7 linked regions of the Homo sapiens genome follow. The protein of the gene in region 2 purifies or fractionates together with the protein of the main gene of each other region. This does not show direct contact. Each region holds a gene or a part of one and is shown on either strand. Other genes may lie near its edges. The genes, in order: FREM2, PSG8, MGRN1, LOXL2, CELSR2, FRAS1 and FAT1.

Region 1 (3,500 bases), on a different chromosome or scaffold from region 2:
TGATAGCTGCTCCTTGGAAGTCAGTGACAGACATCATGTGGTGCCCATCACTCTCAGAGTAAATGTCCGGCCAGTGGATGATGAAGTGCCCATACTGAGCCATCCTACTGGCACTCTGGAGTCCTATCTAGATGTCTTAGAAAATGGGGCTACTGAAATCACTGCCAATGTTATTAAGGGGACCAATGAGGAAACTGATGACTTGATGTTGACTTTCCTCTTGGAAGATCCACCTTTGTATGGGGAAATCTTGGTCAATGGCATTCCAGCAGAGCAGTTTACTCAAAGGGACATCTTGGAGGGCTCTGTTGTATATACCCACACCAGTGGTGAGATAGGCCTATTGCCTAAAGCGGATTCTTTTAACCTGAGTCTGTCAGATATGTCTCAAGAATGGAGAATTGGTGGCAATACTATCCAAGGAGTTACTATATGGGTGACCATCCTGCCTGTTGATAGCCAGGCCCCAGAAATCTTTGTAGGTGAACAGTTGATAGTAATGGAAGGTGATAAAAGTGTTATAACATCAGTGCATATAAGTGCTGAAGATGTCGACTCCCTGAATGATGACATCTTGTGCACTATAGTTATTCAGCCTACTTCAGGTTATGTTGAAAACATTTCTCCAGCACCAGGCTCTGAGAAATCAAGAGCAGGGATTGCCATAAGTGCTTTCAACTTGAAAGATCTCAGGCAGGGCCACATAAACTATGTCCAGAGTGTCCATAAAGGGGTGGAACCTGTGGAGGACCGATTTGTATTTCGTTGTTCTGATGGCATTAACTTTTCAGAGAGACAGTTCTTCCCCATTGTAATCATTCCCACCAATGATGAACAGCCAGAGATGTTTATGAGAGAATTTATGGTGATGGAAGGCATGAGTCTGGTAATTGATACACCCATTCTCAATGCTGCTGATGCTGATGTTCCCCTGGATGATTTAACTTTCACTATTACCCAATTCCCCACTCATGGTCACATCATGAATCAGCTGATAAATGGCACGGTTTTGGTCGAAAGCTTCACCTTGGATCAGATCATAGAGAGTTCCAGCATTATTTATGAGCATGATGACTCCGAGACCCAGGAAGACAGTTTTGTGATTAAACTAACAGATGGGAAGCACTCTGTGGAAAAGACGGTCCTCATTATAGTTATCCCTGTTGATGATGAGACGCCCAGAATGACTATCAATAATGGACTAGAAATAGAAATTGGGGATACCAAGATTATCAACAACAAAATATTAATGGCAACAGATTTAGATTCAGAAGACAAATCTTTGGTTTATATTATTCGTTATGGGCCAGGACATGGCTTATTACAGAGACGAAAACCTACTGGTGCCTTTGAAAATATCACACTGGGCATGAATTTTACCCAGGATGAAGTAGACAGAAACTTAATTCAGTATGTCCATTTGGGGCAAGAGGGCATTCGGGACCTAATTAAATTTGATGTGACTGATGGAATAAATCCCCTCATAGATCGTTACTTTTATGTGTCCATCGGGAGCATTGACATTGTCTTCCCTGATGTGATAAGTAAGGGAGTGTCCTTGAAAGAAGGTGGCAAAGTCACTCTTACAACAGACCTACTAAGCACTAGTGACTTGAACAGTCCTGATGAAAACTTGGTTTTTACCATCACCAGGGCTCCCATGCGAGGTCACCTGGAATGCACGGATCAGCCTGGTGTGTCCATCACGTCTTTCACTCAGCTGCAACTGGCTGGAAACAAAATCTACTACATCCACACAGCTGATGATGAAGTGAAAATGGACAGTTTTGAGTTTCAAGTCACCGATGGACGTAACCCTGTCTTTCGGACATTCCGTATCTCCATTAGCGATGTGGACAATAAAAAGCCAGTGGTCACCATCCACAAGCTGGTTGTCAGTGAAAGTGAAAACAAGCTGATTACTCCTTTTGAGCTCACTGTCGAAGACAGAGATACTCCTGACAAGCTCCTGAAATTCACTATCACCCAGGTGCCTATTCATGGCCATCTCCTATTCAACAATACCAGACCTGTCATGGTTTTTACCAAGCAAGACTTGAATGAAAACTTAATCAGCTACAAACATGATGGCACTGAGTCAAGTGAAGATAGCTTCTCCTTCACAGTGACTGATGGCACCCATACAGACTTCTATGTTTTTCCTGATACGGTGTTTGAAACAAGGAGACCCCAAGTGATGAAGATCCAGGTCTTGGCTGTTGACAACAGTGTCCCCCAAATCGCAGTGAATAAGGGGGCCTCTACACTTCGCACTCTAGCCACTGGCCACTTGGGGTTCATGATCACAAGCAAAATATTGAAAGTGGAGGACAGAGACAGCTTACACATTTCTCTTAGATTTATCGTGACAGAGGCCCCTCAACATGGATATCTTCTCAACCTGGACAAAGGCAACCACAGCATCACTCAGTTCACACAAGGTATGTTTCATGTTTCTTTTCTTGGTTATCCTTGTTTCCTGAGAATGTGGCTTCACTAAAAGCCTCACAAACAGAGCATTAAATTAGAGTCCAAGAGAAGGAAAGGAAACAAAGGGGATGGGGAGAATATAGGGACTCACTTTCCTAGGAGGACAGCTCCCTTCTTGTCCTACCTCCCATCTCAGTGGCCTTCATTAGAGGGAGTACTGATGTATTTTGAAAGTGGCAAGGATAGGCTGCCGAAGCAGGAGGTGAACTTTGGTGAATTAAAATCGAAGCAGGCTTTCCAATTCTGCTCCATTTGCCATACCTATCCAACGCATCCTCTGTGTTGTATGCTGCAGGTGGTTCATGAAGCATTTTGGCACCTTAATGAAGGATGTGCTTTCTAAATACTGTTTATTCACATTGCTGTCATTATCAATTACCATTCCAAAAAAGCCTTCAAACTTAGGTTACTTTGAATAAATTTTAAGAGCATTGCTCTGACACGGTTATAGTTGTTAGGAACTTTGTAACTAAAAGATTTGTTTACATTTATTTACTTTGTTGATTTTTAAAATTGTTAATAATATTTCATGACAGGCAAATACTCATCCAGAGACGTAATTGATAAACACCTATCTAGAGTTATAACAATGATATTTACAGGGCATGCTACTAGGATATACATGAAAAAGGAAAGTATACTTAAAGATGTGTAAAATAACAATATGTTCATCACCAAAATATACATCTAATTCATTATTAAGAGCATGAAGATAAGTAGACAAGCTTAATATTAGAAGGGGGAAATTATTTCATCATTGTGAACCTCCTCTCTGACCTGTTGCAAACACAGTGACAAAAAACAGTTGCTTCAGGCACCTGCGGTCTTTAGGCAACAGGATTTTTCTAACCTGAATTTCCTTTGTGGGTGGACACAATCTGAGGCAGAAAGGACAAGTGTCCTATGCAGAGTTATTTAGTGAGGGAAGGGAGAAGCCCATTCACTATACTGGCTTGGGAGTCAGGGCTCCGTTCTGCAGAACATGCAACTTTCATTACAGTGGGATTTGG
Region 2 (4,251 bases):
ATCCTCATCAACTCTTTCTGTCACTGCTCCCTAAATGCCCGCCCCTGCCCCATCTATCCTGTTCTCTGGGGCATCCCAGGCCAAGCCTAGCACTGACACAGAACAGCAGCTGCCTAAGGGCCCACAGCCTCCCCGGGAATCAGCCAGGCACCCTATGACCTGCCTGCCCGCTGCACCACGGGGTGCTCAGAGTGCGTGTGATGGTCACACACAGGCACCATCCGGGATGTGGCCACCTGCCCCAGCTGTCCCTTGGGAAGGCAGACCTCTCCTGTGCGCTTGCAGGGAGAAGCGGGATGTTATTGCTCTTTGCTCCCAGAACACAACTCACCCCCACACGCCCCCTCAGGTGTGAGCAAGGTCCCTCCAGACAGGCTCTCTGGCCACTGCCTGTTCCTCCTCTACACACAGCAGCTTGGCCAGGTCAAAACCCTCAGGACAGACCCCTGGGTATGTCGGCACATGGAGGGCTGAGCCCATCATGGCCACGGAGTAAGTCAAGATGAATCTCTCCAGCTCTGAACCCCTGCTCTGTCCCAGGCACACCCTCTTGCGTCTCAACGAGCCATCTCCCTTGGGGTTCCTGGGTGACTCCCCACTTCCTCCTGCACCACCACGGGGAAGGTGTGGTGACCACAGGACAATCAGCTGGGCAGAGAAGAGAGGACATCAAAGATGGTCAGGAAGAACATGAGAAACCCTGAGCTCCAGCTCAGTGGCCAGACCCCACGGAGTCACAGAGTGACCGAGAACTGTCCCTTTGACTATGGGACTCACAGCCCCCACTGAGCAACCAGCACAGGCCTCTCCTCCCAAGAGACATGAGAGATTCACCCTGCACACCTCCAGGAAGGACAGTTTCCTCTGGGACACCCAGGTCCTGAGTGTCCATCCTTGGAAGCTGCAGCCAAGCTAGACACGATTAGAGAAAGGAAGGGTCCCTCTCACCAGGCAACACACAGCTCACCCACAGCACAATGGGGTGTCACTGTGACAGGGACCTGGTGCAGCTCCAGCCTCCTGCACTGAAGGGGAGAGCCAGATGGGGATGAAAGAGGCCAAAGGGCATGAATGTGCACCCCGACCCAGAGCCATGGGGACAGCAGGAGGCTGAGGCCCAGGACTCTGCTTGCCCAACCTGCAGGGTATGTTTCTGACTGTGTAGGTCTGTGTGTGTCCTTCTGTGTGTGTGTGTGTGTGTGTGTGTGTGTGTGTGTGTGTGTGTGTGTGTGTGTGTGTCTGCACAAAGTGTGTGTTGAGGTTTGGTGAAAGAATCACTGCTGAAAAAGGCAGAGGCCTCCACAATTCCCAGGGACCTGAAACACAGACAAAAGGAAAAACAGGAGGGACAAGGAGGCAGGACTGAGAGAGGAGGGGACAGAGAGGTGTCCTGGGCCTGACCCCGCCCATGAACCTGAGAGGTGCTCCTGCCCCGGGAAGAAGCTCAGCGCAGAAGGAGGCAGGACAGCACTGCTGAGAGCTGTGCTCAGGAAGCTTCTGGATCCTAGGCTCATCTCCACAGAGGAGAACACACAGACAGCAGAGACCATGGGGCTCCTCTCAGCCCCTCCCTGCACACAGCGCATCACCTGGAAGGGGCTCCTGCTCACAGGTGAGGAGAGAACCTCCTGGGAGAGGACAGGAGGAGGAAGCAGAGTGACTGGATGGGGTCTCCTTGAGAGTATGGGGTACTAAAAAATGAAAGAAGCCAGCACTTTGGGAGGCTGAGGCAGGTGGATCATGAGATCAGGAGTTCAAGATCAGTCTGGCCAACACAGTGAAGCCCTGTCTCTACTAAAAATACAAAAATTTAACCAGATATTGTGGTGTGCTCCTCTAATCCTAGCTACTCGGGAGGCTGAGGCAGAAGAATCACGTGAACCCAGGAGGCAGAAGTTGCAGCTAGCTGAGATAGTGCCATCGCACGCCAGCCTGGGAGACAGTATGAGACTCCATCTCAAAAAAAAAAAAAGAGAAAAAAGAGAAAAAGGAAAGAAGGCTCTATTGGAGCCTGGATAGGGGGAAATACACCAGAGAGGGACAGGGGTCAAAACAGGAAAGTCACAGGAACCAGAATTGGTAAGAGGTAGGAAAATCTTGTGTTCTGTTTTCCTGATTAATCATCAGGGGCCACCACATTTTGAAATATGATAATAATAACTGTATCAGATGACACTTCACATAAAAATATACACAGGGCATGAAACACTGTCCTCAGCAAGAAACCTCAACAATTGGGGGGAAAAAAAAACACCAAGGGCGTGGAGGGCCCTGAGAACTCTCACATCTACAGGAGTCTGCAGCCTGTTCTGGGCACTGGGGTGCAACCAAGATCACAAAAATCCCTGTCCTCATGGAGCTCACGCTGTCATGGAGGGGAAGACAGACATGCAAAGAGATCTAGAATGTAAGGTCAGGTGTTGAGAAGAACCCTGGAGGGAGCAGAGCAGGGAAAGGTCAGAAAGGGAAGACCCAGGGTATCTGAAGGAGGTGTCAGGAAAGAAATCTAAGGATGCCCTGATGTGAGCAGGACCTGAGGGCAGTGTGGAGGGGGCCATGCGGACCCCTGGGGAAGAGGATTGCAAACAGAAAAATGCCAAGGTCAGAAGTGTTGAAGGAATGGGGGTCATGGGGCTGACCTTGACCTAGTAGGATAGTAGGACACACACACATACACACACACAGACACACATGCCGCTTTTGTGTGTGTGTGTGCGTGTGTTTGTATGTGTGTGTGTCTGTGTCTTCAAGGCTGAGGACTGAAGAGAACTTCTCAGGACCCAGGGCCCCATGTTTTCACACCAATACATAGCTCTCAATATTGACTGATGCTCTCTCCACCTCCTAGCATCACTTTTAAACTTCTGGAACCCACCCACGACTGCCCAAGTCACGATTGAAGCCCAGCCAACCAAAGTTTCTGAGGGGAAGGATGTTCTTCTACTTGTCCACAATTTGCCCCAGAATCTTACTGGCTACATCTGGTACAAAGGGCAAATCAGGGACCTCTACCATTACATTACATCATATGTAGTAGACGGTCAAATAATTATATATGGGCCTGCATACAGTGGACGAGAAACAATATATTCCAATGCATCCCTGCTGATCCAGAATGTCACCCAGGAAGACGCAGGATCCTACACCTTACACATCATAATGGGAGGTGATGAGAATAGAGGAGTAACTGGACATTTCACCTTCACCTTATATCGTGAGTGATTCCACATGATCCCTGGGTGTTGGGGGACAGGGGTCACTTCTACTTCACACACACAGGATTGTCAGGCCTGGACATTGCCTGTGTCCCTCTCTGCATTATGTCCCATGCTGGGGTTTGGGCATTTAGTGCAGGACACACACAGAGGAGACAAATTTCAACAGATCAGAATTCCTTTCCCGCATCCAGACCCTGCAGACACTCGCTGCAGAGGAAGGACAGTCTGATGGGGGGACTCAGCAGGAGGAGATCAGTCTCAGACAAGCACCTCATGCCCTCTTCATAAATTTGACCCTGAGAAAGACCCTGGAGAACTGAGTAGGGCTTGGCCTGAGGAGCCCCTGAGATACTCTCAGAGAAGCTCAGCCCTAGAAGCCTCACCCCCAGAACAGTGTCCCTAAATCCTTGCTCCAGATAAATCTGAGGAGCCTGTGCTGGGGCTGGGTTGTGGCTTCTTGGGCAGGGCTTACTGGGACCGAGGATTTACCAGCTGTCAGAGGACTGTGTCTCCTGGAGCTGTTCACCAGCCAGGGCTCAGCCCTCAGAGCCTCATCTGGGCAAGGACAGAGTTTTCTTCACCTGACACTCAGAGTGGAGAGGACAGAAAGACAAGCTTTGTAGGCCATCAGACAACTGCCTTAGGAGGCTTAGGCCAGTCCATAGAAAGTCTAATGTCCCCAGAAGCAGAAACACAAGAGAGAAGATGTACCTGGTAGCAGCTTGCCCACAGGGATCTGACGCAAAGGGGCTTTCTCATGGAAGCAAATTAATAATAAATGCTATTTGTGTGAAACCTCCACTGTGCCAAGCATTAGGTCAGGTGACTGTGAATCATTTAACATTTATTCACAGATAGCATGAAAAGCCACTGTCCATTTGCCATTTAGCTTATCTGATTGACAGAAAACTGAGGTACAGGAAGACACAGTCCCTGAGCCAGAGTCACACAATCACAAAGGGGAGATCAGGGTCACATGAGGTGTGTCCGCAGCCACAGGCTCATCCTCTCCTCCACCAGAAGTGAGGGCTCA
Region 3 (3,500 bases), on a different chromosome or scaffold from region 2:
TGTGCCCCTCAGCTTCCCCAGCGTGATGTTTTTGCCTCAGTTTCCCCAGCGTGACTCCCCACTTCAGCTTCCTCAGCATGATGTCCTTGTCTCAGTTTCCACAGCATGACATCCCCACCTCAGCTTCCCCAGTGTGATGTCCCCGCCTGCCATCCTGTCCTGCAGCCAAGAGCTCCTCTGGGCTCAGCCAGGACTGCTGATTTGCAGTCACGTCCTGTCTCGGGTGCAGCCTGGAGCTTCAGGGGTGTGACGCTTTGGGGGTCATGGCCACCAGCCTCTTGGAAACACCCTCTGGAGCCCCGCCTTGGGCAGCACTGCATGGCCTTGCTGTGTTTCCTGCCCGGGGCCATTTCATTAATACTGTGTTTGCGGGAGTTCTGTCTCTCGTCTTTGGAGCGCCCCCTCCCTCTATTTCTGTACAGGGGAGCTGCTTCTTTCTTTCTTCCCCCATCTTTCCTGCCTATTAAATTCCTGCTCCTTAAAACTAAAAGAAAAAAAAAAGACCGTTGTGATCTGGAAGCGGGGTCACCCCAGGACCCCTATGGTGTGGGGGGGGTGTTGATCCCTGGGGCTGGGAGGGTCCCCTCGGGGCTGGGTGTGTCGCCTGGGCCTGATCTGAGCCCTCCTTCTGCCGCAGCTTTCCGGGCCCTCCTGCAGATCCGGGCGGTGCGGAAGAAGCCAGGAGCCCTGTCCCCCGTGTCCTTCAGCCCCGTCCTGGCCCAGAGCCTGGAGCATGATGAGCACTCTGTAAGTGCCGCCTCCTGCCTGCGGGATGGGCGGGAGAGGGGCATGAGTGCCTGGGCCAGGCGCAAGGCCCAGACGGTCCAGCCAGCAGCCCCGTGTTCTCTTCTGTCCAGTGGGCAGGCATGGCCCCCATGGATGGCTGTGAGGCATGAAGGGGGTGGCCAGGCTGGGCCCTGGGGTGCCGCTGCTGGGAACAGCGCTGCTGCCATCAGTACCAGAGCCTGCGACAAGGCTGAGCGCGGTCGAGGTCTCGGTGGAGCCAGGTGCTTTTTTTTTTTTTTTTTTCTTTTTGAGGCAGGGTCTCGGTCTGTCACCGAGGCTGGTGTGCACCCAAAGTGGTGCAATGTCAGCTCACTGCAGCCTCGACCTCCCGCCTCAAGCAATTCCCCCATTTCAGCCTCCCAAGACGCTGTGACCACGGGCGTGTACCACCACGCCGAGCTAATGTTTTGTATTTTTAGTAAGGTGGGGTTTCCCATGTTGCCCAGGCTGGTCTCGAACTCTTGGGCTCAAGTGCTAGTCCTGCCTCAGCCTCCCACAGTGCTGGGATTACAGGCCTGAGCCACCGCCTCCACCCCGTGGTTCTTAGTGAATGAGCCATGCTGTTTCCCCCATGCGCTGCTGTGCAAGGGGCACTGGTGACCCTCCTCCCACGCTCCAGGCCCACCAGGCGCCCTCAGTGGGGACCTTAAGGGCAGGCCCTGCTTCAGCAACACAAGGGAGGTGGAACCCTGGCTTCAAGGACCCAAAGACAGACAGAGACATGGAGAGAGATGCACAGAGAAACACAGAGACAGGGCGAGAGAGAGGTGGAGAGACACAGGGAGAGGCAGAGACAAATGTGGAGAGACACAGAGACAGGATGAGAGAGATGTGGAGAGACAAAGGGAGAGACAGAGAAAGATGTGGAGAGACATAGGGAGAGACTGATGGAGAGATAGGAAGAGACAGACAGATGTGGAGAGACGGAGAGACAGATGTGGAGAGACAGGGTGAGAGAGATGTGGAGAGACACAGGGAGAGACAGAGATGGGGATGGGTGGCAGGGGCTGTGGTGGGCAGGGAGCAGAATGGGGGAGTTGGACAGTGACTGGTTGGGCCCGGGTCTTAGGCCCCCTGCTCCCCACTGGCCACGCGCATTGTCAGATTGAGTGCCTTTCTTGGCTCTTAGCTGTGGCTGTTATGAGCCGTTGGTTCTTCCAGGCTCTGCTGCCTCTCTAAACAGAAAAGAGGAGCAGAGCCCTGAGGACTGGCGTTCACAGACAGCGCCTTTGCTCTAGAAGGCTCCTCCCAAGCCCCCTTGATCAGGGCCTTGACCTGGGCCCTATGGGCCTCCCTGGCAGCAGGTGCAATGTTTCTGAAATGGGGTCAATGTTTAAAAGTCTGGAATTTCCCTTAAAACCCAGATTTTGGGTTTGTCTTTTAAAATCTGACATGGTCTTGATGCTAGAGGAGAAACATGGCTTGGGGGTCCCTGTCAACCCAGGCCCTCTAGGCCCCTACCATCGTGGGGCTCCTGGCACCACGCTCTCCAGCACTTTTGATGTTGGCTTTGATTCGGAAACGCTGCGTGTGCTCAGGTTTTTGGTGGAGAGAGAAGCAGCCCCTGAGGGATTTGCCTCTGAGAGGGTTTCACCTAGGGAGTGATCGATGCTCAGGCGTGGCTAGGTTTATTGTCCCTTGTTTTTGCCCCTCCCTGTTTGTGTTCTGGTGGCTGAGGATCCAGTAGGTCCCTCCATGTTTGTCCCTCTTATGCTGAGTGAGCTGGGCGGCCGGGGTCCGAGGTGTGACCAGGCAGCTCTGACCTCCACATGCCCCAGAAGGGCTGGCACCCAGCCAGGGAGCCGCCGTCCTCTCTGCATGGAGCAAAAGCAAACGCTCCTCCTCACCTGCCAGGTTCCTGTTGGAGCCCCTTCCACGTAGTGACAGAAAGAGCCACCGTGGGTGTTCTCTCCAGCGAGTGCCTAAAGATGATGGTGGGGTGGGTGGGTCTGGGGCTGACTCTTCTCCCCAGCCCTCTTGAGGGGTTCATGGTTGGTGATAAGTGAGCGGCGGTGCCTGGGCACCGGCTGGCTGGGGGACTTTGACCAGTGTGGCTTCAGGATCTCCACCCTGCACCCAGCCTGCATTAGGCAGCGTTCAGCTGCCCTCACGTCCACCTTGGCCAAATCTGTTGCCCCAGGTGACCCAGACTGCGGGGGGACAGGCAATGGGGATGAGATTGGGCTCCACAGCCTCCCCACTGCAGCAGCACAGCTCCCGGGAGCTGCCGAGACGCACACATGGCCCACCCAGACCCGAGTCAACCCTCACTTAGGACAGTCCCGAGATTCACGTCCCCCGGAAGCTTGTGAAGTTCTGCGCCACGGTGTGGCAAGAGGACAGCCAGTCAGACCTGTCCAGCCCACTCCAGGGCCGCGTGGGGGTGGTAGTTGTAAAACATATGATTTTTATCTTGACAGTGTCCCTTTAAAAAATCAAAGCCGCACCCCGCCTCCCTGGCCAGCAAGAAACCTAAAAGGGAAACAGTAAGTGTCTGGTCCTCCGGCTACGTTTTTTTGCCCCCGCCCTCATTTTTAAACCCACGACAAGTAGGGGAGATCGTTTCCGCCCCAGGCTAGTGTCTGATTCATATAACCCGTCAGCTCCACTTGCCCAGTCCCGGCCTCCCTGCCCAGGGAGTTTGTGGAACCGGAAAAGCTCTCGGTCCGTGGGCGAAACGCCAGGTGCGCTGGCCCCGCCGCCCTCCCCTCAGC
Region 4 (3,500 bases), on a different chromosome or scaffold from region 2:
ATTTTTAGTAGATACAGGGTTTCACCGTGTTAGCCAGGATGGTCTCGATCTCCTGACCTCGTGATCCACCCGCCTGGGCCTCCCAAAGTGCTGGGATTACAGGCGTGAGCCACTGTGCCTGGCCGGAAAAGCATATTTCTAAAGATGATTTCACCCACCCCAAGAATAGCATATCTAGGTAAAATCACATGATCCTAAGTATATACCCACATAGGCTTTTTGGGTTGCTTTTGTGTTTATTGTGGTAAAATATACGTAACATAAAACTCACCATCTTAACTATTTTCAAGTGTACAGTGCAGTGGCGTTAAGTGTGTTGACACTGCTGTGCTACCATCACCATCAGCCATCTCTGGTACTTTTGCATCTTCCAAAACAGAAACTCTGTACCCATTGAACACTAACTCCACTCTCCCCCTCCGACCAATCCCTGGCAGCCCCCATTCTACTTTCTGTCTCTGTGACTATGACTGAACTAGGTACTTCATATAAGTGGAATATATTATATTTGTCTTTTCGTGTCTGGCTCATTTTACTTAGCATGGCTTCCAGGTTTTTTCACGTTGTAACCTGTGTCAGAATTTCCTTCCTTGTTGAGCCTGAATAATATCCCACTGTATGGATAGACCACATTTGTTTATCTCCTCCTCCACTGGTGGACATGTGAGTTGTTTCCACCTTTTGGTGACTGGGAATAATGCTGCTGTGAACATTGGTGTACAAATGCCTGTTATGGATGAACTTTTACAAAGTGAACATGCCCTTGCTACTACATCAAGAATAGAACATTAGCAAGAATGCATGAATTTAAAGGCAAAGCAGGAGATTTCAAATACGTTTCATGCCCAAACATGGCTGCTTCAATTACACCTCAAGATCTTGGGACTGGATATTGATTTTCTCTACCATGAGGGGGTTTGGAAGAGATATTTGAAAGAACACAGTTAATAATCTGTGATTTGAAAGAGTCAGTTTATAATCACAGATTAGTTATGAGATTTAAGTAGCTCCTTTCCTTAAAACGTCTAGGGATGGGAGTACAACCTGTTGAGATTTGCAATTGTAGCTGTGTTAGGGTATCACCACTAGGATCATTCCAGGCTGCCCCTTGGCCATTGTAGGGTTCAAATCCACCTGGAGAACTCCTGCCTTTCTGGCAGCTTCTGCTGGAGCACAAGTCTAAGCCCATTCTTTGGCCGTATCCTGCCTGCCCTCCTCATTTCCTTCCTCCCTCCTTCCCTTCCCACCTGATCTCTCTCTCGTTTTTTTGTTTGTTTGTTTGTTTGTTTGTTTGTTTGTTTTTGAGACTGAGTTTTGCTCTTGTTGTCCAGGCTGTAATGCAATGGCACGATTTGGCTGACCGCAACCTCCACCTCCTGGGTTCAAGCGATTCTCTTGCCTCAGCCTCCCGAGTAGCTGGGATTACAGGCATGTGCCACCACACCCTGCTAATTTTGTATTTTTAGTAGAGACAGGGTTTCTCCATGTTGGTCAGGCTGCTCCCGAACTCCCGACCTCAGGATCCTGCCGCAGCCTCCCAAAGTGCTGGAATTACAGGTGTAAGCCACCGTGCCCAGACTTCTCTCTCTTCTTAAGTAGAACGATTTATCAGTGACTCTAAGAGTTTATGTGTGTATTTAGAAATAAGGCCAGGCACAGTGGCTCACACCTGTAATTCTAGTACTCTGGGAGGCCAAGGTTGGGGGATTGCCTGAGCTCGGGAGTTCGAGACCAGCCTGGGCAACAGGGTAAAACCCCATCTCTACTAAAATTACAAAAATTAGCCAGTCATGGTGGTGCACGCCTGTAATCCCAGCTACTCAGGAGGCTGAGGCGGAGGTTACGGTGAGCCAGGATTGTGCCACTGTGCTCCAGCCTGGGCGACAGAGTAAGACTCTGCCTCCAAAAATAATAAAATAATAATAATAAAGTCTTCAGTCAAGAGTAATATTTTGATGCCTGGCAACCACCCCCAGGCTGCCTGCATGACACTTTCAAGTGTCATCGAAGTAGATTCTTTTTTAAAAGACTTTATTGAGATATAATTTGCATATCATCCAATTCACCCATTAAAATGTACAAGTCAATGGATTTCAGTATATTCACAGATATGTGCAAATATCACCCCAGTCAACTTTAAAATGTTTTCATCAACACAAAGAGAAGTCCATATCCGTTAGCCACCACCGCCTATCCTCCCAGCCTTAAACAGCCACTAATCTAGTTTCTGTCTCTATATTGCCAATTTTGTATAATTTGTGTAAATAGAATCATATAATATGTGGTTTTTTTTTTTTTTTTTTGGTCTGGCTTTTTTCACTTCCCTTAATGGTTTTTTTGTTGTTGTTTCTTTGTTTTGTTTTGTTTTGAGACGGAATCTTGCTCTGTCACCAGGCTGGAGTGCAGTGGCGCCATCTCGGCTCACTGCAACCTCCGTCTCCCAGGTTCAAGCGATTCTCCTGCCTCATCCTCCCAAGTAGCTGGAACTACAGGCGTGCGCCACAATACCCAGCTAATTTTTGTATTTTTAGTAGAGACGGGGTTTCACCATGTTGGCCAGGATGGTCTCGATCTCTTGACCTCGTGATCCGCCCACCTTGGCCTCCCAAAGTGCTGGGATTACAGGCGGGAGCCACGGTGCTCCCCTAATGTTTTTAAGCCTCACCATGTGTCAGTATCTCGTTACTTTTTATGGCCGAATAATATTCTATTGTATGGGCATACCGTATTTTGTTAATCCATTTATAGTTGACAGACATTTGGGTTGTTTCCACCCTTTGAGTATTATGAATAATACTGCTATGAACATTCATGTAAAAGTTTTGTTTGAACACCTGTTTCAATGTGTTTCAATTTTGGGGGGGTATATACTTAGGAGGGGGGTTGCTGGGTCATATAGTAATTCTATGTTTAGCTTTTTGAGGAATCACCAAATTGTTTTTCACAGTGGCTGTAGTATTTTACATTTCCACTAGCAACGTATGAGGATTCTAATTTCTCCACATCTTTGGGGACACTTTTTATTTTCCCCTTAAGAAAATTCCAGCCACCTTTATGGGTATGAAGTGGTATCTCATGGTACTTTGTGTTTGCTTGATGACGAGTGATGTATCACACCTTTTTATGTGCTTGTAAGCCATTTGTATATCTTCTTTGGGGAAGTGTCTATTTAAGTTTTTGCCCATTTTTAATTGGGTTGGTTGTCTTTTTTTTTTTTTTTTTTTCTCTGAGACAGAGTCTCACTCTGTCACCTAGGCTATAGTGCAGTGGCACGATCTCGGCTCATTGCAACCTCCACCTCCCGAGTTCAAGCGATTCTCCTGCCTCAGCCTCCCGAGTAGCTGGGACTACAGGCACGCGCTACCGTATCTGACTAATTTTTGTATCTTTAGTAGAGACAAGGTTTCACCATGTTGGCCAGGCTGGTCTTGAACTCCTGACCTCAGGTGATCCGCCCACCTCGGCCTCCCAAAGTGCTAGGATTACAGGCATGAGCCACC
Region 5 (2,713 bases), on a different chromosome or scaffold from region 2:
TGAGGGCAGCCGGGGAGGCCCCCCTCCCCGCCCACCGCCCCGGCAGAGCCTCCAGGAGCAGCTGAACGGGGTCATGCCCATCGCCATGAGCATCAAGGCAGGCACGGTGGATGAGGACTCGTCAGGCTCCGAGTGAGTGTGGCCGGGTGGGCGGGACGGGGTGCAGCCCCTCGGAGGCCTCACCTGGGCCCAGAGCTGCCTCCGGGCCTCCCCAGGTGACTCTGGATGGCATTTGGAGGACAAATGGGCAGAACTGGCCCAGCTCCCTTACTATGCCGTGCCCACAAACCATGGTGCCTTGCGGGGAGGGCCACCCCTCCTAGGCTCTACGCGGCGCAGCCCAGCCTAGGGCAGAGTGCGGGAGGATGGGGAGCTGGGGGTGCTTTCCTGTTTCCTTCGTCTGGTGAAAGCTTTCACTCTCTCCTCTGTTTCAACTAACCCTCTGTCTGCCTTTTCTGCCACTTTCCTTTCCTGCCTCTCCAGATTTCTCTTCTTTAACTTCCTGCATTAACCCTGGGCCGTGGTTCCTACGCCCGAGGCTCCCTTCCCTTCCCCAGCCGCACTCATGCCCTGCTCCTGTCTTGTGCTTTATCCTGCCCCGCTCCCCATCGCCTGCCCGCAGCAGCGACGAAACGTCCATCTGAGGAGCCTGGGCCTTGCCGGGAGGGGTACTCACCCCACCTAAGGCCATCTAGTGCCAACTCCCCCCCCACCATTCCCCTCACTGCACTTTGGACCCCTGGGGCCAACATCTCCAAGACAAAGTTTTTCAGAAAAGAGGAAAAAAAGAATTTAAAAAAGGATCTCCACTCTTCATGACTTCAGGGATTCATTTTTTTTATACGCTGGAAATTGACTCCCCTTTCCCTTCCCAAAGAGGATAGGACCTCCCAGGATGCTTCCCAGCCTCTCCTCAGTTTCCCATCTGCTGTGCCTCTGGGAGGAGAGGGACTCCTGGGGGGCCTGCCCCTCATACGCCATCACCAAAAGGAAAGGACAAAGCCACACGCAGCCAGGGCTTCACACCCTTCAGGCTGCACCCGGGCAGGCCTCAGAACGGTGAGGGGCCAGGGCAAAGGGTGTGCCTCGTCCTGCCCGCACTGCCTCTCCCAGGAACTGGAAAAGCCCTGTCCGGTGAGGGGGCAGAAGGACTCAGCGCCCCTGGACCCCCAAATGCTGCATGAACACATTTTCAGGGGAGCCTGTGCCCCCAGGCGGGGGTCGGGCAGCCCCAGCCCCTCTCCTTTTCCTGGACTCTGGCCGTGCGCGGCAGCCCAGGTGTTTGCTCAGTTGCTGACCCAAAAGTGCTTCATTTTTCGTGCCCGCCCCGCGCCCCGGGCAGGCCAGTCATGTGTTAAGTTGCGCTTCTTTGCTGTGATGTGGGTGGGGGAGGAAGAGTAAACACAGTGCTGGCTCGGCTGCCCTGAGGGTGCTCAATCAAGCACAGGTTTCAAGTCTGGGTTCTGGTGTCCACTCACCCACCCCACCCCCCAAAATCAGACAAATGCTACTTTGTCTAACCTGCTGTGGCCTCTGAGACATGTTCTATTTTTAACCCCTTCTTGGAATTGGCTCTCTTCTTCAAAGGACCAGGTCCTGTTCCTCTTTCTCCCCGACTCCACCCCAGCTCCCTGTGAAGAGAGAGTTAATATATTTGTTTTATTTATTTGCTTTTTGTGTTGGGATGGGTTCGTGTCCAGTCCCGGGGGTCTGATATGGCCATCACAGGCTGGGTGTTCCCAGCAGCCCTGGCTTGGGGGCTTGACGCCCTTCCCCTTGCCCCAGGCCATCATCTCCCCACCTCTCCTCCCCTCTCCTCAGTTTTGCCGACTGCTTTTCATCTGAGTCACCATTTACTCCAAGCATGTATTCCAGACTTGTCACTGACTTTCCTTCTGGAGCAGGTGGCTAGAAAAAGAGGCTGTGGGCAGGAAAGAAAGGCTCCTGTTTCTCATTTGTGAGGCCAGCCTCTGGCTTTTCTGCCGTGGATTCTCCCCCGTCTTCTCCCCTCAGCAATTCCTGCAAAGGGTTAAAAATTTAACTGGTTTTTACTACTGATGACTTGATTTAAAAAAAATACAAAGATGCTGGATGCTAACTTGGTACTAACCATCAGATTGTACAGTTTGGTTGTTGCTGTAAATAGGGTAGCGTTTTGTTGTTGTTGTTTTTTCATGCCCCATACTACTGAATAAACTAGTTCTGTGCGGGTACAGCACTGTCACTGTCCGCTTCTGTGTGGTACCCTGTCCTCCCACAGGGAGGAAGGTCTGGTCTCTGGAAAACAGAAGAGCCGGCAGGGCCCAGAAGGCCCCACCGGGAGGTCGGGAGACTCAGACACCACTGGCTGATAAGCCTGTCCCTCTGCCCATGTCCATGACACTGCTCCCAAATAGCTGGATCAGCACAGAGCCCATTTCCTGGCATTTCCAAGGAAGACATGGTGGGCGGGCAGGAAGGTGTCCTTTTCACCAGGACGGAAAGGACTTCTACGGTGGGAGAGGCTGCACGGGGCAGGCAGCCTTCCAGCCCAGCCCCTCAGGGCTGAGTCCTAGACAGGGATGAGTTTTCTGGGGCAGAATTCAAGAAGCAGGGAGGGCTGCATTGAGAGGCTGGTTGGAATTGAATGGTGGTCAGTGACTCAGTGCCTCCTAACTATACTGCTCAGGGTTGTTTTTTGTTTTTTTTTTCCCATTGGAAAATGAAGCAGCTA
Region 6 (3,500 bases), on a different chromosome or scaffold from region 2:
CAAGAATTACTATTTGATAAACACAAATACCTTAAGTCTTAGCAATGAACATGAACTTTCAAGATGAAATTTCACTTTTTTTGTCTCTAAATATTAATCTATGACCCTTCAGAACTATTATCATGCTTCAGAAGTTATTTCGAAACCATGAAGCATTTTAATGGAGGAAGATGAGGGGGAGATAAAATACTTGATGATATAGCCTGATTGAGAAGGTGTTTAGAAAATGTTTGTCACGTATCTGTGTATTATGCACAGAGTATATGTTTAGTGAATATTTTGTTGAATGACTCCATTTTCGCTGAAGTTCACCAATAAATAGTAAATTGGCATAACACATAATTGAAGGTCACTGTAAATAAATGTGGTTTTTAATGCTATTATTTCACTGCTATCAATAAAGACAGACAAATATAAGCATTCACTTAGCTAAAGAGACCATGAAAGATAATTTCTTAGGCTATTCCATGTACACATAGGGAAACAAAAAAGAATCCGAATAGCTGACTCAAGATCATCTTAATTTGGAAATAAAATAGAACCCATATCTGGTTCAGTTCTCTATGTATTAGTAGACACCAACCATTGCTAATGCTTTTCTGGAAATCAGTTATCTATCAAGGCATATAGTGGCAATTATCCTTCCATTTCCTTTCTTCAGAGGTGGTCTGTGGGCAACAACAACATGTTCGGTTTGTCCCCCTGCAGGTGGAAGCAGGACACCAGTGGTATCTCCAGGTCATCTACATCATTGGCCCTGACACCATCTCAGGGCCCCGGGTCCAGCGCTCTCTCACAGCTCCACTCAGACGCAACCGAAGGGACCTGGTAGAGCCCGATGGCCAGCTGATCCTTGATGATTCCCTCATCTATGACAATGAAGGAGACCAAGTCAAGAATGGCACCAATATGAAGTCCCTGAATCTGGAGATGCAAGAGTTGGCGGTAGCTGCGTCCCTGTCACAGACTGGGGCGTCCATTGGCAGTGCCCTGGCTGCAATCATGCTTCTACTTCTGGTGTTTTTGGTGGCTTGTTTTATCAACAGGAAATGCCAGAAACAGAGGAAGAAGAAGCCCGCAGAGGACATTTTGGAAGAATATCCTCTGAATACCAAGGTAGAAGTGCCCAAGAGGCACCCGGACCGGGTGGAGAAGAACGTGAATAGACACTACTGCACTGTGCGGAACGTCAACATCCTGAGTGAGCCTGAGGCGGCTTACACGTTCAAAGGTGCTAAAGTCAAAAGACTGAATCTAGAAGTCAGAGTTCACAACAATTTACAAGATGGAACAGAAGTTTAATGGAGGAGACCTATGTGTATTTTTTTCTAAAATCATTTTTATAAAATGGGGGGAAATACTGGTATTTTTATAATCTCGCAGATAAAAAAGGGAAAACTATAGCTTTGAGTGGCAGACAGCACACATCACATGCATCAACTCACAACTGAGCTACCTCATTCAGCAAAGAACCACTGAGAACCCCAGAGTATTACAGTTATTTCCGTAGATCCCTTTAATAGTGTCAACAACTGTACACAGCTCCTTCTGTAAGGCTGGTCTTAGAAAACAAGTACTTTAGTATCAGGACAGGAGTTGAACAATTAGGTTAGCAGATGGAGATGAGAGGACTGGGTAGAGTACCATGGCAGATCTCAGAGAGAAGAAGTAGGTACGGGCCTTTGGTTCCCTCCCCCAGCCCCAGCTTTCTCCTACAGGGCTTTTCCTGAGTCCCCAGACAGCAGAGTATGAACTGCTGACACCCAGATTCCATTAAAAATTCTGCTAATCGACACAACACATATATTTGCTCATGATTTCACTTGACAGCGTATGCTCCTTGGCCTCTAATTGTACTTTGCTTTTCCAGAGCCCTTTTTACCTGGGGATTTCAGTGTGCTTAAGTAAAATCCTCTGAAAACCACGGGAGCCTCTGCCTCCTCAGCCACAGAGAACTCCCTCCTACAAAGGGGGAGACTGAAACCCGAGTTAAGGAGGGGCCTGGCAGGCGTATCAGAGCACATTAGTGATGCCCTTCACCCCAGGGAGGTGTCTGTTCCCAACTAGTTTATGTGGCACTGAGACATCCATCCCTGACCAAGGATGCTGCGAAACAGGATCAATGTACTACGGCCTTTTAATTCAACATTGCCATAAATGCTTTAAAGAAAACCCACCACACTTTCCTCCTACTCCGGTCTTTGCCCGTTCCTGTAACAGACAATCCCATGTCCTAGGTATGGTTTTTTATTCTGTTAGTGCTTCGGGAAAGTAAGTGATTCATTTGAATAAGGCAAATTAGGAGAAAGCCCAGGTTGGGGTGAAATCAGACTTAACAGATACATGCTGGTTCTCCTTGCTGTGTGTGACACAGCAGACAGAGGCACTATTCCTGGTGCAGTATTTCAGGGATTTCTCTTTGAGGGGTTCTTTTCTGGTAGCTCAGGCAATTATTTTTACCATATCAGCACATGACAAGGCCATGAACACATGGCTCTAAAATAATTTAGTGTTCAAGTATCAGCTTAACTATTTTGTGTAGGCTACACACAGCTTGCTTTTGTTTCTCTTCTGTTTCTGCCTTATTGGCGGAAACATAAGCGTGCATGCCATGTTGTTTTGAATTGGAGGCACAATTTCATTATTCGAGAGTAAAAGACATGTCCTCTTCTGATGCATGGCACACCATAGTCACCAAGCAAATAACAGAGCCTTCACATTGTGTAATATTTGTATGAGAATGACTCAAGCTCTTTGAGAACATTCCAAACTAGTAACATTTCGCTACTAAAAGCTAGAAAGGATGAACTGTGAAAGGTTCTAGGCAGCTCTGTGAGACTCCAAGCTCCTTGAAAGTAGGACCTTTGTGAGCCACGCCTTTCATTCTTCAACAGTGCCTTGCATGTAACAAGCACTCCAGAAATGTTTGTTGAATGAATGAATGGTGTCATGGGTGAATGATGGGGAGTAAATTTAGGAAGGGGAAGTGAGAGAGTATGGTGGCAATATCACAAGGGAGGAGAGAGGAAAACAATTATCTTCTCTACTTGGATTATGAGATAACCTTTTCTTGGAGGAAAGAAACACCGCTTTACAAAGGCATGACTCTGGCGGTGGTCCTAAGGAAGCATGAGCAGAAAATTCATAAAAATGTATCATCAGCAGGAGATGAGACTATGAATTGGCATCCAGAACAGGAGATTTAGAGCAAAATCTAATTTAGCATTCTGAGATGAGTGTCAGGTTTTCAGGAGAGAATGAGTTGGGGTGAGCCCAGAGTCTGAAACTCCTGACTGGTCAGGTGCTACTTAAGACCAGCTTGGGCAATTCAGGGCAGAACTCCTGTATCAGCCTCATGGACACCCAGAATTGGTATCTCATGGCTGGAGAGCTGATCAGCCAGGCACAGAATCTCCAGAACAACCTAGAGAGTGAATGCTAATTTGTAGAGCGAACTTCCATTTGGCCCATTATTTGTAACTGTGTAACTGCTCCAAGTG
Region 7 (3,500 bases), on a different chromosome or scaffold from region 2:
CCCATCCAACATCTCGCCATCTCTCAATGTCTAAAAAACATGGTCAACTGTATGTCTCATTACTTTAGCAAACTGGAATTGGAACTCAACACGGAACTCCTCTAAAACCAGCCCCCGGCTCAGACTCCTCTTTGCCACGGCCTTGGTCGCTCCCCCTACTCATGTAGAAAGTCGGGCTCGATGGCATGCTGGCTGGCTGTCACACCAGATGGTCTTCCTCGGTGGTGGCTTTGGTCCTTTCACTCCTTCCCCACCTCTGCCTTTCCAGGGCCCCCTTGCATCCACTCCTCCCTGTCTAAATAATGGGCACGATGCTTCCAAACTAAGCTTAAGAACTCGTCTCATGTCATCTCTACCTTACCGATATAAAAGGCTCCAAAGTCCCTATTTTCTCTAGGATCGAGTTCAAATCCCTTGGAACGACCGCCACTGCCCACTGTAATCCAGTTCACCCTTTTCCAAGACTCTCAGTGCAGACTCCCCACTTCTGGCAAACTCAGTGGCTACTCCCACAATCCCTCCTCACACTCCATGGCCCCTCCCCACCCACTCCTGACGACCCACTTACTGCCCCCCGAAGCTGAGCCAGCCCTTTCTCTGGGCAGCCCTTCTCACCCTCTGGCCCCAGGGACCACCCCTGCTCGAGCCACATGCCCTCATCTAACCTTGGAGGGAGCAGCCCTTCCTACGTCTACTTTTAGTTCCCACTGAATGGTGAGCCGCGCAGATGCAGGAAGCACGCTGTCCACCTCTGAGCTTCTCCAGCGTGCAGAAGAGCAGATGCCCCCAAAACAGTGTCTCACGGCACGTCGGCACTTTGTTTCCCGTCAGATCCTTCCCCCAAAACAGCTGTATCCCCATATTAAGAGAATCCCCTCATGAAAAGGTTACAGAGCATTTTCAGTGTTGGATGCAACTGGAGTCCTGTCCGTAATTTAGTTTTCTAGAATGAGGCTTTTGATTTATTGAGCATTCCCGCAAATAGTTCTGAAGCTTTTCCAAGTCTTACCCCATTTAACACCTCTGCTTAATCAGTAAGTGATCATAAAACACATGTGAATTACACCACAGCGCCAAATGATGGTCCCATTGAAAGAATTAAGAAATTGAAATTCATAACACACAAATGTAAGGGAAGAGCTGCTTACCTTTTCACAAACTGGACTGTTGTCATTTGCATCCAGAACTTTCACTTCAACTATCGCTTTTGATGAGAAGGTGCCATCAGTTGCCGTGATAGTAAGAAGGTAATTGTCCCTTTTTTCCCTGTCTAGAGGTTTCTTCACATATACCTTCCATTCATTCTGTATAGTTTCAACGGCAAACTGTCCTAAAGGATCCCCTCCTATTAAATCAATGGAGGAAGATAATAATCAAATTTGTTGAAAGGATAAAAATAAGTAACAGAAAAAATAAACTGTACAAAAGATGTATAATGTTATAGTTTAAAAGAATTGAGTATTAAAAGAATTAATTTGGCATATATTAGCCTTCCAATTTACAAAAACAAGGGCAGCATTAAAATGCATAAACATAGCATTAAGACTACTAATCATTTAGCCTGCATTAAAACTATAGATGTTTTTAATTATATTTATTATACACTAAGTATAAGGTTCAAAAGAATGAGTCACAAAAATCAAAAACAGTCTAATGAAACAACTGGTAGCTTTGCTCAGGTAACAAGCTTGAAATGAGGCTCAACAGATGTTATTTCTACGTATTATTTTAGATATTTTTAACTAAAATCATCCCTTAAATCCCCAATTTCCATACAATACAGATCTTATACTTTATGCTTCTAAAAATCATTTTAAATTAATTAAACCGTTTGGTATGAATTTTTTTTACCTGTTATGAAATATGTAACTTGTCTGTTGATCTCTTCAGAATCAGCATCCGTGGTACTTAAGATGGCAATCACCCCACCTTGGGGGTCATCCTCACTCACAGTCCCTTTATAGATCTCGGCCGTGAATCGTGGTGGACTATCGTTGACATCGGTGACGGTAACATCCACAATGGCTGTGGAGGATAGCTGGATCTTTTCACCATGATCTGATGCAACCACTTTAATCTGGTAATTGTCTCTCTTTTCATGGTCAAGTTCCTTTAAAGTTGTAATCCAGCCTGTTTCCATGTTAATGGCAAAGGATTCAATGACTTCCACACTTTGTGACTGATCCAGGCTATACATAACTTGGCCGTTGGTTCCTGAGTCAGCATCAGATGCCCTGATCTGAATTACTCTACTTCCCCCTGGCAGGTTTTCAACAATGAATGCCTCATATGGACTAGATTCAAAGACCGGGCTGTTGTCATTTGCATCTTTCACTTGGATACTAACATCTACAGAAGCCACCATCTCATGGTCATCTTGAGTGCACCTGGCCAGTATGGAAAACTGATACCACTTAGTTGTCTCATGATCAAGACTCTTCTCCAACTTCAGTCTCCCGCTCTGTCTGTCAATCACAAAGGACTCATCCCTATTGCTTTCTGGAGTATTCCCTTTGACCAGGCTGTAAAGAACAGTCCCACTATGTTCTGCTCGGATGAGATCTATCTCTGTTCCAATAGGCACGTCCTCTGACACTGTAAAGGTATAGAAAGGTTCTGAAAATTTTGGAAGCTGCATTTCCGGTGGAAGGATTTTAACATAGACAAGAACAACAGATTCTTTTGATGGAGACCCATTATCCACAGCTCTAACAAAGAAAGTGAAGAATTCATTTTCCAAGCCAATGAGGCTCTCCTTTGTAGTGATTACGCCGGACAGTTTGTTAATTTCCAAATTCTCTTTTACACTTTCAGAGTCTGCTTCAATGGCATAGGTGATGTCGGCATTGGAGCCCTCATCGGCATCACTTGCAAGAACTTTAACGACTGAAGTCCCTTTAGCAGCACTGGACCCGATATTCACTTCGTATTTGGTTGCTCGAAATTGTGGTGCATTGTCATTGTCATCTGTAAGGATGACATTCACGGTGCAGAAAGCAACTTTTCCTCCAGCATCCTTAGCCATTAAACGGACTGAGATCACTTTCTCCGCCGGGGTTTCTCGATCAAGTTTTTCCAAAGTAAATATCTGTCCTCTCTCATTTATGTAAAATCTGTCTTTGGCAAAGTCATTTACAATATGGTAAGTAACGTGACCATAAATACCAGAATCCCCATCCGTAGTTTTCACCTCCATCACCAGGGTATGTAGGGGAGCGTTTTCAGCTAGTTCCACTTCATATTCGTTCTGAAGGAAAGCAGGACTGTGCAAATTGCCTCCAATTACAGTTACATGAACCTGGGTGGAACTTCTAAAAACTCCATCAGACACTGACAGGTTAAGACTGTAAAATGGCTTCAGGGCGTGCCGGTGCAGGTTTGAGAGGGTGATAATCCCTGTTGCACTGTCAATGACAAAATGTTTATGATCATTGCCAGACAGAATGGAATACTGCAACTTGTCTATGTCTGAACTGTCTGCATCATAGGCTTTTACACAG

What was found.
Region 1: the proteins of PSG8 (region 2) and FREM2 purify together in Homo sapiens (affinity purification with mass spectrometry; 2 studies listed by BioGRID and IntAct, with this or other methods). This does not show direct contact.
Region 3: the proteins of PSG8 (region 2) and MGRN1 purify together in Homo sapiens (co-immunoprecipitation; 3 studies listed by BioGRID and IntAct, with this or other methods). This does not show direct contact.
Region 4: the proteins of PSG8 (region 2) and LOXL2 purify together in Homo sapiens (affinity purification with mass spectrometry; 2 studies listed by BioGRID and IntAct, with this or other methods). This does not show direct contact.
Region 5: the proteins of PSG8 (region 2) and CELSR2 purify together in Homo sapiens (affinity purification with mass spectrometry; 2 studies listed by BioGRID and IntAct, with this or other methods). This does not show direct contact.
Region 6: the proteins of PSG8 (region 2) and FRAS1 purify together in Homo sapiens (affinity purification with mass spectrometry; 2 studies listed by BioGRID and IntAct, with this or other methods). This does not show direct contact.
Region 7: the proteins of PSG8 (region 2) and FAT1 purify together in Homo sapiens (affinity purification with mass spectrometry; 2 studies listed by BioGRID and IntAct, with this or other methods). This does not show direct contact.

Annotation. Positions count from the first base shown.
Region 1 is NC_000013.11:38,690,077-38,693,576, forward strand, and holds part of FREM2 (FRAS1-related extracellular matrix protein 2 precursor), read left to right. Parts: coding exon 1-2,441; intron 2,442-3,500. UniProt on the Homo sapiens protein: Extracellular matrix protein required for maintenance of the integrity of the skin epithelium and for maintenance of renal epithelia. Required for epidermal adhesion. Involved in the development of eyelids and the anterior segment of the eyeballs.
Region 2 is NC_000019.10:42,762,879-42,767,129, reverse strand, and holds the start of PSG8 (pregnancy-specific beta-1-glycoprotein 8 isoform a precursor), read left to right. Parts: upstream 1-1,451; 5' UTR 1,452-1,548; coding exon 1,549-1,612; intron 1,613-2,848; coding exon 2,849-3,214; intron 3,215-4,251.
Region 3 is NC_000016.10:4,676,826-4,680,325, forward strand, and holds part of MGRN1 (E3 ubiquitin-protein ligase MGRN1), read left to right. Parts: intron 1-637; coding exon 638-747; intron 748-3,206; coding exon 3,207-3,272; intron 3,273-3,500. UniProt on the Homo sapiens protein: E3 ubiquitin-protein ligase. Mediates monoubiquitination at multiple sites of TSG101 in the presence of UBE2D1, but not of UBE2G1, nor UBE2H. Plays a role in the regulation of endosome-to-lysosome trafficking.
Region 4 is NC_000008.11:23,394,121-23,397,620, reverse strand, and holds part of LOXL2 (lysyl oxidase homolog 2 precursor), read left to right. Parts: intron 1-3,500. UniProt on the Homo sapiens protein: Mediates the post-translational oxidative deamination of lysine residues on target proteins leading to the formation of deaminated lysine (allysine).
Region 5 is NC_000001.11:109,273,539-109,276,251, forward strand, and holds the end of CELSR2 (cadherin EGF LAG seven-pass G-type receptor 2 precursor), read left to right. Parts: coding exon 1-132; intron 133-483; coding exon 484-511; 3' UTR 512-2,213; downstream 2,214-2,713. UniProt on the Homo sapiens protein: Receptor that may have an important role in cell/cell signaling during nervous system formation.
Region 6 is NC_000004.12:78,539,823-78,543,322, forward strand, and holds part of FRAS1 (extracellular matrix organizing protein FRAS1 isoform 1 precursor), read left to right. Parts: intron 1-708; coding exon 709-1,302; 3' UTR 1,303-3,500. UniProt on the Homo sapiens protein: Involved in extracellular matrix organization. Required for the regulation of epidermal-basement membrane adhesion responsible for proper organogenesis during embryonic development. Involved in brain organization and function.
Region 7 is NC_000004.12:186,615,857-186,619,356, forward strand, and holds part of FAT1 (protocadherin Fat 1 isoform 1 precursor), read right to left. Parts: coding exon 1,852-3,500; intron 1,346-1,851; coding exon 1,149-1,345; intron 1-1,148.